Regions from separate parts of the Homo sapiens genome. Here region 1 is linked to region 2. Evidence: fine-mapped QTL for protein levels in blood plasma. A gene starts in region 2. The other region holds a variant in brackets. All regions are shown on one strand. Distances are between the middles of the regions. Region 1 overlaps COL6A3 (collagen type VI alpha 3 chain). Region 2 holds the start of COL6A3 (collagen type VI alpha 3 chain).

The links. A credible set is the group of variants that fine-mapping cannot tell apart. PIP is the posterior inclusion probability: the model's chance that the variant is causal. Sun 2018 read protein levels with aptamers (SomaScan).
Region 1: its variant is the best candidate, but not a certain one, in a credible set for the plasma level of the COL6A3 protein (Sun 2018, PIP 0.53).

What each region holds. Positions count from the first base shown.
Region 1 is chr2:237,322,363-237,327,731 of GRCh38, forward strand. COL6A3 (collagen type VI alpha 3 chain) reads right to left here. Exons shown (of 44, transcript NM_004369.4): 43 at 3,198-3,362; 44 at 1,656-2,452. The coding sequence ends at 2,412. Among named protein-coding and RNA genes, the nearest start is that of COL6A3, 89 kb to the right of the region's middle. RefSeq lists an enhancer at 2,146-3,345. The variant G/A (reference allele first, on the strand shown) is at 2,478.
Region 2 is chr2:237,410,982-237,416,350 of GRCh38, forward strand. COL6A3 (collagen type VI alpha 3 chain) reads right to left here and starts at 3,183. Exons shown (of 44, transcript NM_004369.4): 1 at 2,972-3,183.

The DNA.
Region 1 (5,369 bases), 89 kb before region 2:
CAGCCAAGGGACACACACAGAGAAGCAATGCATAGATAGAGTGAACCAAGAATGGCAGGGATGGGCATGCTGGCAACAGGAGGTGGAAAGGGAGAGAGGGTTCTGGAGCCCTTGGAAGTGAGTCTCCTAGTGATGGGCCCTGCCCCAGTCTATTGTAACACACCTTGAGCAGACCATCTAGGTATGTTACAAATATTGGTGTCCTACTCCTGTACCTTGGGCCTGACTACTCCCCCAAGTTCCACATGGGAGTATCTGCAGGTCTTTGCCAAGAACATTTTCTTACACTACAGAAGGCCCCTTTGCCAGTGTGCCTGCAAGCCAAGAGGACCAGAGCATGAATGCCTCAGTGACCCGTGGAAACAGGTGTATGACTACCCAAACTCCTTCAGCCCTCTGCTGGCCTACGAGGTGCAGTGCCACAGGTGCACCTCCCAGGGTTTCCCCGAGGGATTGGGCTCTGGGCACCCACAGTGGACGCTGACTATACACCTCTTAACAGTGCTCTCCCTTTGCTTGTCTCACTCCCCACTTCTCAGCCACTCAGTGACTTCCTTCACCTCCCAAATAAACTACTCACACCCATATCCTTAGTCCTAAGGGCTGCTTCCGGAGGAACCCAAAAAGTAAAACCAGATTGTGATGCTCATTTTAGGTCCATAGCAGATCAAGTCAATGGGGGTGGCGGGGGCAGGGATCCCTTGGGAAGTGGAGCACTCAGCCCACCGCTATGGGAGCTGGGCCCACAGCTCTCTGCTCCGCAAGTTCCTGCAAGAGGCTGGTGTTGGGTGCCTGGCAGATCCCAGGGTTGGTCACCAAGGGTCACAGCTCAGAGCACACTGACCTGAGCACCCCATGGTAGCTGCCGAGATAGAAGAGGACTGGGGAGGAGGTCATGGCGACCTTGTGGGGACTAAGTGGCGCTTCTGAAGAGGGCCACACTCCTCTCTCCTTTCCCAATAGACCAACTGGCAAATTCATCCCGATTTTACATAAAACATTTCTGCTGACACCCAAGATTCCTGTAATTCTACCCTCAGCACTTGTCAGGACATATGTATTTTATCCAATAAGTTGTTTCCTTTGTAAGTGGAACTCAAGTGCCACCTGAATATGTATTTGTTGGTTTCTTGTATTATTTCTGAAGAGAGAAAAAAACAGTCTTTAAGAAAAACAAAAAAATGAAAGACCTTGTGCTTTGAGACTCCAGAAAAGGGGTTGGGGGTCGTGGGGCAACACTGAATCTCTCAGCCATTGTGAGAGGAAGCAAATCAACCCCCTGGGAAAGGATCACTGTGGAGAGGAAGACAGGAGGAGGCTGAGGCTCTGAGGGCCAACCAAGAGTCAGAGGAAAAGATAGAAGCCAGCCTGACTCTGAAAATCAGAAACACTGCCGGGACCCAACAGCAGGAACACCTTCCGCTCGGCCATGGAGCACTGGAGCATGTGGGGCTGAATCCACAAAGCGGGGGATGCTTGTCTCCAGCCGGTCTCTTTGCACACTGGCTGATAAAGCTCTTTTGCCTCCTCCACTGGAAACGAAAGGCTGTTGCACAGCTCCATGGGGCCAGAACCAAACCCAGTTTCCCCAGCCTAGGGGTGATTCTGACAATCGCTGCTATGGAAACAAGACTGCCAAGAACGTCACACCCAGGAAACTTTCAATATACTTTATTAAAAAGTTTCTTTGTATAAATTTCCTAAACATTTTAAAATTAAAATTAAATCCCCTCCCTCCAGCACACACAAAAAAAAAACACACAACATTAGAGGAATGCCAAAAATATTCTCTATTACAACTTTTTTAAATTCTTTAATTAAGGCATTGGTCCCAACGGTGCACATAGATTAAGGGATTTTGCTTCCTTCTGAACTAGATCATTTGTTAGAGGCTTCAGAAAAAGAAAATTAGCTTGAAATCTAGTCTGGGAAATTGGGGGCAGGGAATGAAAAAGTTGGTCTCTTGTTTCTCCACGATACACAGGCTTCCCATCTAAAGTCATGCTTAACTAAAAGGGAAAAAAAATGAACCAAGCAAAAGTATATAGAGTAGCCGTGACATTTGCATTATTTTCTAGACTTTACATTTGCCTGCAACAGGCATAACATGAAACTCCAGAGGGAATTTGGATTGATAGGAATGTTCACATAAACACCAGCAGTGGCTAACTGTTACACAACATTCAAAGTATTCGAGAGAACTGCCTGGAGACAGAGAGCGAGGGTCCACAGACACATTAGCACCATACTGATAGGTCATGCAGCAGGATGTTCCCTCCCGAGTTCGAGTGTAAATCAAAGCATGAAATGATACAGTGCAAGGGAATCTACACCCGGAGCTTCTACAGAGACAAGTTGGCGATGGCTGACTCCTTCTTCTTCAAGAGGTATATGATGTTGGCCACCCACGCTTAGGTTCCCATCACACTGATGACTCCGGGTTTGGCGAGCACTGAGCGTCGAGAGAGGGGGTGGGT[G/A]GGGTGAGGTGAGGAGCCGAGAGAAGAGAGGAAAAGCCACATTACTGACCCAAAAGGGCACTGTCATTATCATGACACAGTCCCGCAGCCTCTGGTTTCCATCACCTGTCCCACTTTTCTACTCAGTACCATCAAAGGCCCTCTGTGACGTTCTTGGCCTGGGGCCCCGGGGCCCAGGGATGTCTGGGAAATCTGATCCCATTCTTTTGCCCTGCACCATCTACCAGGCCTTTATACGAACTGAACTCTCCCCATTCTGGCACTGACCCCAGGCTCTGTTCAAAGTGTTTATTTTATTACCAGTTGAACTGCACAATATAATGGAGATACTGGATGGCCCCAGTGACAACATTGTTATTTATAGGAAGCAAAACTATTTAAAAGATAAATTTGTGGGGGTTGTTTATCTTTGGCGTTATCTGTAGTTGTTCATTATATTATCTTCCCAGGAATCATTTTTGGTGCAATATTTTACAAATAACAGCAACTTAGTAACATTTCTGAAGAATGACAAGGGACAATATGTTTTTAGAAACCCAAAATAGGAATTCAAAAAGACATTTCATGGGTTGTATTTGAACGTCTTCCTTATCTGAGGATACACTTTATCTTCTTTTTCACATGTATCATAATCATTGCACTTCTAATATTTTTCAAGGTGACTTATTGACCTGAATCTCTTATTTGCAGAAGCCATAAACACAAGGAAGAATCACTTACCAGGAGCGCAAACCTTTTCACATTCTTTCTGTGATCCAAATTTGTTTTCGTTTCCACCACAACCTCCATACCAGAATCTTGCACAGCTTTTGGTGTTTGGATCATAGTACCATTTTAATATGAAATCCCTGCAAGTTCCTTCGTCTTTCGGCAACTTGCATATATCTTTAATAAAAACATGAGAAAAGGATATTAATGAGAACATGCGTGTTACTCGGCTCCCAGTGCTGGGGCTGACAGTCTGATGACCCTACTGTGGCAGAAGGAAAAAAAAGAAGAGCTTCCAGGTGAAAACTCCCTTAACCTGCTCAAATCTCCATTTCCTCACTGCCATATGGACATAGGAATTGCTTACAGCCTTGTGAGAGATAGATGAAATTATATCAATGAAAGGGCTTCATAAACAGCACTCAGAATCCCAAATGCTGGCAATGGTTATTGAATAATTTTAAATGAAATGAATTGTTTTTCCCCTTTCCAATCACTGGGCCATTTGCCCTCCAAGTCCTTCCATGTTAAATCCCCAGAAAAGAAACTGAATTTTAAAACCTCAGGGTTTTATAATTCTTGGCAAAATGGAAATTCGATTCTGTTGGGATATAGTTCAAAAATAAGGCTCTACCTTTCATTACAAGCCAAGTAGACTGAAAATTAAAGGTAAAGCAGAAAAGAAAATCCTTTATGAGTGTGTGTGTGTGTGTGTGTGTGTGTGTATGCACGTATGTGTGGTAGCCAAGAGCCTTTGTGACCTGCCAAATGAAACACGTAAAACAAAGAGCTAGCACTGATGTAAAATTCATGATGGCAAAAATGTCACATAGCAGAACTATTTTGAAGACAGAGAAGCATTCTTTTCCCAGTTAAGGAAGTTTATGTTTCCAATGCACACGTCTGATGTAGCCCAGCTGCAAAGTAAAGCAAAGGTCCCCTCGACGCCTGGAGAGAAGAGTTTACAGTTCACACACAGCACGACTCCTGTTTACAGAGTTTTCTGGCAAACTCCAGATTGTTCTGGGAAAGAGAAGCATTGATGTCAACTGTTATCTGTAAGTTTGAAAACGTAAACCTTCTTTCTCCAAAACTCCCTGGAGCCAATAATTCTGCATGTTCCTGTGAGTAGCTAACAGGCTGGAATTATCCAGCTCTCCCCTACAAAGAGATGCTTCTCCATCTCCTTTGTCCCCAGCGAGGCAGGCTGCTCACAGCTGCGGAGGTGGTGAGCATCTGTGCTTCAGATAGATACCAAAAAGGACAAGGAAAACCTAAGTCTTCAGTGGATAATCATAGCTTGGATCACCCACGATGGACCAGACTCAAAGGTGCACAGGACTGAGGCTCAGAATTGGTCTAAAACATTTCCTGGTTGCTGCTGTCACCCAAATTCCAGGCTGGTGGCTGGTGGCTCCACAGTTACAACACCTCCTAGTTGCAGACGCTCTCAGGGCCCAGAAAGCCAGTGGTCCCCACGAGAGCCTTTGAAGACTCCAGGAAGTCAGAATAAAATGAAGACAATTTACAAAAACAACCTTCTTTCTCTCAAATATGCCAATAACTGAAGGAAAATGCCTGGCTGTCAAGGAAGGTCCTGGAGAGAACTGACAAGGCAAGGTAATTTAACCATCAAAATTTATTCCTCATTTACTGGTGGCTTCCCTGTTAGCGTGAGGCCGGCGTCAAATGATCTCCCTATTCTTCCTTCCTTCCCAGAGCGTTGGCCAATGGACCCTATTTGCTCTATTTTATTTGTTTCAAGTGCACTTCAGTCCTGACCATCTGTGTTTAGCTGTTCAATTCCCAGTCCCCTGGGCTCTGCTGAACCAGTCACGAGAGGTCTGCCCAGAGCCACGGACACCCAGCCCATGAGTGGCCTCACAGCAGCACACTCCACTCCCCGTCTGATTGGCTTCTCCAGCTTCCTTGGCCCTCCACCCTAGCCCTCCAGTTCCACACCACGGCACTGGTGTTTTCTGCCCTTATTTCAGTGAGAGTCACTACTGAGACCCTGTAAGATTTACTAGTGGAAAATAAGGACACTGTTACTGTGGACAAGAAGATATTTGGAAAACCAAGAGAAATATATTAGTGAGGTGAGAACCCGGCACTATTCAAAGACAAAAACCTGTACTTCTCTACTTCTGAAGCATGAAAACGGAGGATTTTATGTTCTTAAGA
Region 2 (5,369 bases):
TTTCATTTTCTTAGCTAGAGCTAATAGGATTTTCTTTAAATGTCAGGTCCCTCCTCAAATCGTCAGCTATTTATGTAGCAGTGATGTGTTTTTTACTGCCTGCTTGCTGCAGCCAGGACACCATGAAAAGTTTGCTCCCGTAAGTCAGGGTGGAAAAGCTGCCTGGTACACAACATCCCTGTCAGATGGAAACCGCCTGCAATCCTTCCCCCAAGAGATAGCAGATTTTCAGCTTCTTCCAAAAAGAGCAGTGACAAAACTGAACTTTCAAATAAAAATTTTTGCTAAAGCTGTTACTGCGCCTGCAAGGAAGTGTCACGCAATAGTATTCACGACTTGCCGGTGAATTTTAAGTCCTAAACATGGAATTTCACATATAAGTGGGAGGTGATATCAACCGCTGGTGAAGACTACGCTTGATCCAGTTGTCTGAACACTCTGAGCAAGGAAACAAATGAAACCTCGCTGGCAAAAAGTCACTGCCAGCTTCCAAAGCTTCCAAAGAAGGCGGTCTTGTTTCAAGCTGGCTTTAGGCATCCAGGTCTATGGGTTCCGTTCCTGAAACTAAGGTCAGGATGAGCAGCCTCATTGGAACCATAAATCAACAATCGACTGAAGAGAGGAGCTTCTTCCTACTTTCTCATCGGGGACGTATTAAGTTCTAGGATAGGAAATCACAAAAGGCACTGATGATAAAGTCAGTGCAATTTGCTGAGTCCTGAATGCTTTAGAAATAAAATGAAGTGTGAAGTAAAGACAATTTTTCAGAAAGGTGCCTACCTCGTATCAAAAATATCATTCAGACCCCAGGTTTGGACATTTGCCACATGTCCCCTCACCTGTGGGCCACAACTATAGTGGGGTGGAACACGCTCCCTGCCAAGCAGGGAAAGAGCGGGGCCAAGGGCTAACATTCTAGAGGCTTCCCCAGCCACCTCCCAGAAAGGTGCTGTAGCCACACCCTCCAATGCCTGGATAGGAAAAGCCAGGACAGCCTCACTTCACCCCAACATGGAATTCCTTCCCAAGCCCTCTGCTCCACTCAGTGTCTGCTTCCTGGCTTCTCTCGACCATGAGTGAGGAAAGGAGAGAACTAAACCTCTGGGTAGCAAGAAACCCCCTAAACAAAGAAGTCCAGACAGGCAGCTGTTCCTACATCCTGATCTTTGTAAAAGCCACGCCTCCCCACCCAGGCTTTCATCCTCAGCTACAAGCCCACTTCAGAAAGAAGAGCATACAGGTCCCCTCCTTCAGCGCCCTCCACCCCCAGGAGGTGGCCTGAGCAGGGCGGCCAGCCCCGGTATTCCGGTCACGGAACCGATGCCCCCGCCCCACGGTCCACCTCCCTTCTTTCTCGGTTCATTGGTAGAGTCTTAGTGAGCCCAAAGCAGTTTTCCCAACGAGATGTGAGTTATTTGGGATCCTCCGTCACTGGCTTGTCTGCTCTCCTTCAATGGGGAAGGATTTCACTGCCATCTCAGGCACTCGCTCCCTGGCCTGGGCAAGGAATTCCGCATCTCAGAGCCCCTGGTTGCTCATTTTGAAAACCAGGAAACTACTGCATCAGTGGCTTCTGACCAAAAATCTCTTCCATTATCTTTAGCCCAACAAAAACCTCAGAAGTCCCAGTAATGTCATCAACGGCCACCCACTCAGTTTTCAATATAGTTTTGCTTAGGAGCAATGTAACTTTGATTTTAAAGCCATTTCGGTTGTTTTTTACAGCATTAAGAATGGGACCCTGGGGAGCTGGGGGATCCCAGGTTGAGCATCCACCATCCCCGTGAGCTCTGAGCACCCTGCAGCTCTAGCACCCTGTGGTCCTCGCCGGGGTGAGCTGTATGTGGGGAGAGAAGCCAGTCAGCCGGGGCCACAGCCCTGCCTCCCCATCCAGCACAGCAGACTCCCCTGTGCTCAGAGGGGTTTGCTCCTGGGGTCTGCACCGGCCTCGAAACTGGCTCCTGGGGCTTCCTGTGGAAGCAGATTTTTCTTTAACCACTCCCTAGTCCCTCCCAGTGACCCCACCCATACTTCAATACCCGTTCATTATCCAACATAGTAGGCCCCTTGAAACAGGTTCCCCAAACAGGCTGGCCACTGTCAGCGAACGTGTCCATCCTCAGCAAGAGAGGGCCCGAGCCCCACCCTGCATCCTCCGGGCCAGAGAACAGCCCTCGGGGCCTCCCAGCTCGGCACTGGCCTCACCTCTGTGCAGCATGGGCTGGCCCTGCAGCCCCAGGGGCCCTGCCTTAGACACTCAGCATGCTGCCCAAATGCCCAATTCCTTCTTCTCCTCTGACCCCTGCAACTCCTTTAAGCAACCCCAAGGGACAAAGTCTCCAATAGAGACTTCAGGTTCCTGGAAAGACGAAAGCTTGACGGCAATGACTGAGCGACCCTTTACTTGGCCCTGATCCTGAGCACCAGAGTTACTCCAATCTTGTGAAAGCAGCAAATGTGCTCCACCAGGACCTTCCCATGGGCGGCCCTGGGCAGAAAACCCATGCAGGTTGTTGCACCCTGACCTAGTGTCACCACCCAGAGAGCTCAGAGAACATCTCCCAGCGGAGCCGCCCGGCAGGGAGCTATGCTAGTCCTCAGCAAAGACGCTTCTGCAAACAAAGCGGATCCCGAATGGGTTTTAGAAGGCGGCAGTAACTTAAATAAATCATGGGCCGAAACACACTGCCGCCCGGAATGCACAGGGCGCGTGTAGCAGCCACAGACACGCGGTGGAAAAGTGCTCACACTCTTAGGCAATCATGACCTTAACCAATTTAAGGAAATCCCATTGCCATAAAGTGAGAAAGAAAAATCAGCGGAATCTTCCAGAGACCTAAAACATGTACAGAAAACTGGCGATCAGCATGAACGTAAGAGCCACTAACGCTACCTAGAAAGGATCACTTCAGGTTAAGAGCATTTCCTTCTAGCCCCAAACCTGGAAAAACAGAAGAGAAATCACACTTACCCCTGAGCAAACCTGAAGGCGTGTGTCCCTGGGCTCCTCGATTCAATTAGGTTTGAATAGGATGCATACTTTTCCCACTCACTGCGTCTCTTTTTCTTTTTGCAGCCTTTCTCCACCAAAAAAGTGGAGACTCAGAGCTGCGGAGGAAAACTCTTGCAGTCCTTGCAGGAGGCTGGAGCCCAGGAGAACTGAACGGCCTTTGGTGGAAGACTGAGCTCCAAACTGGACTGGGGCCAGGGATACCAGTCAGGGCTTCCTCCAGCTCCTCCTCCTCCTCCTCCTCCCTCCCGGACCCCTCCTCTCCCCCTCCTCACTGCAGAACTGACCCAAAACTGTAAATGAAACCAGACTCCTCCACTCTGTTTCTTCTGGCCCCCGCTCAGGCTGATGTCACCCTCTGAATTCTGTCTTCACCCTACAAGCGTTTAGCTGGACTCCTGCAAGCCCCAACTCTTAAAAAAAAAAATTGACCACTCCTACTCGTCACCTTTTGGGCTGGGCCCTTGGCGTCAAAAAGAATAAATTTTGGAATTTCTTCGTGGGTATCCATGGTTTTCCTGCAATGTTTTCCAACACCATCTGAAAGGAAAACAGGAAATGCAGTCCCCCGCTTACCCTCACCACACCCTCCCATTTCTTCTTGAAGTTTCTGAATTGAGACTTCTACTAATAACTTCCCCCTTCAAATAGAAAAACCAGCAATTAAAATCGCCTTGGTTTTCTGTTAACCAAAGCTCTGTTCACCGGCAAAAAAAAGGAGGCTACATTTCTCTTAATTTCTATATCTAATGATTCTGATTGTGGCGCTTATAGGCCCATTCTAGGCACAGACGGGGTAATAAAAATGGTTATCTTGCCAAAGCTTCGGGAAAATACTTGAGTAAGAACTTCTGTTTCTAGAAAGCTTTGCACATTTCAAAACACTTCAATATACATTCTCTCCTTTATCACAAACATCAACACCCTAAGCCCTTTTAAATAGAAAGATGTCTTCTTTTATTAGGTGAAATTGTGGTCCCATTTTACAGATGAAAGAAACAGGCTGGGCACGGTGGCTTATGCCTGTAATCTCAGCACTTCGGGAGGCTAAGGCAGGCAGATCACAAGGTCAGGAGTTGGAGACCAGCCTGGCCAACATGGTGAAACCCCTACTAAATCTCTACTAAAAATATAAAAATTAGCCAGGCATGGTGGCAGGCGCTTGTAGTCCCAGCTATTTGGGAGGCTGAGGCAGGACAATTGCTTGAACCCAGGAGGCAGAGGTTGCAGTGAGCCGAGATGGCGCCACTGCACTCTAGCCTGGGCAACAGAGTGAGACTCCAAAAAAGAGAAAAAGGAAAGAAAGAAAAGAAATGAAAAGAAAAGAAGAGAAGAGAAGAGAAGAGAAGAGAAGAGAAGAGAAAAAAGAAAAAAAGAAAAGAAAAGAAGAAAAGAAAAGAAGTTCCGAGAGAGTAAGTGACATCGTCATTGTCCAGTCTGGGTTAGTAACAGAGCTCAAATGACAACCCAGCTTTGGCCATCCCCAAACTTCTCACTGCTCTCCCATCATGTGGTCCTTATGAAAAGTCCATTAATGTGAAATATCAAGAGACATCCGAAAGGTTCTTTTTGACTGAGAGATCCTTCCAAACCAAGTTTGAAGAGCAAAGAAATCATTAACTCCTTTCCATGGATTATCTCCCTCCAATTTAGGGAAGAAAGGAGACAGCACCCCAGAGAGAATGCCTGCTCCCCTCTGCAGCTCCAGGGCTCCCTTCCTCTCCCATAAAGAAGCCCAACCCATCTCTAAACCAAAGGGCTCACTTGCAGAGCACTGGAGTAGGGAACAAGGATGGAACCTGAATTATGGGGTTCTTAGGTGAAGACACGCTGAGCAGAGGCTCCGAGTATAGAACCGCGCTGCCTGCATGACATGTAGAAGGACAACACGCCCCTCCAGCGGCATCCAATTCTCTGCCCTCATCCTCTCTGCACAGTGCAGGCGTTGACTCAAGCCCCTACAGAGACCGGGGATACTTGCTGCCACCCCCTTGGTTAGAGTCTGCAACTTCAGCACTAAGGAGGACTATTTCTCCCAGAACATTGTCTGCTGCGAAGAAGACAATCTTTGATTACAACCCCATGCTCCAAGCAGCTCAGCAAACTGAGGTTAACTGAACAAGCACGTTTTAGGTGTTTCCACTCCACGGTTTCTTTCAAATACAAATACACTCTTTTTCGCAAAATCGCTAGGCAGATGCATTCCTTGGTATTGAAAGTTTCTATTACAGTCGACCTCGTATCCATGGGTTCTGCATCCATGGATTTAACCAACTGTGGTTCAAAAATGCTTTTTAAAGTAGATGATTGCATATATACTGAACATGTACAGATGTTTTTCCTTGTCATCATTCTCTAA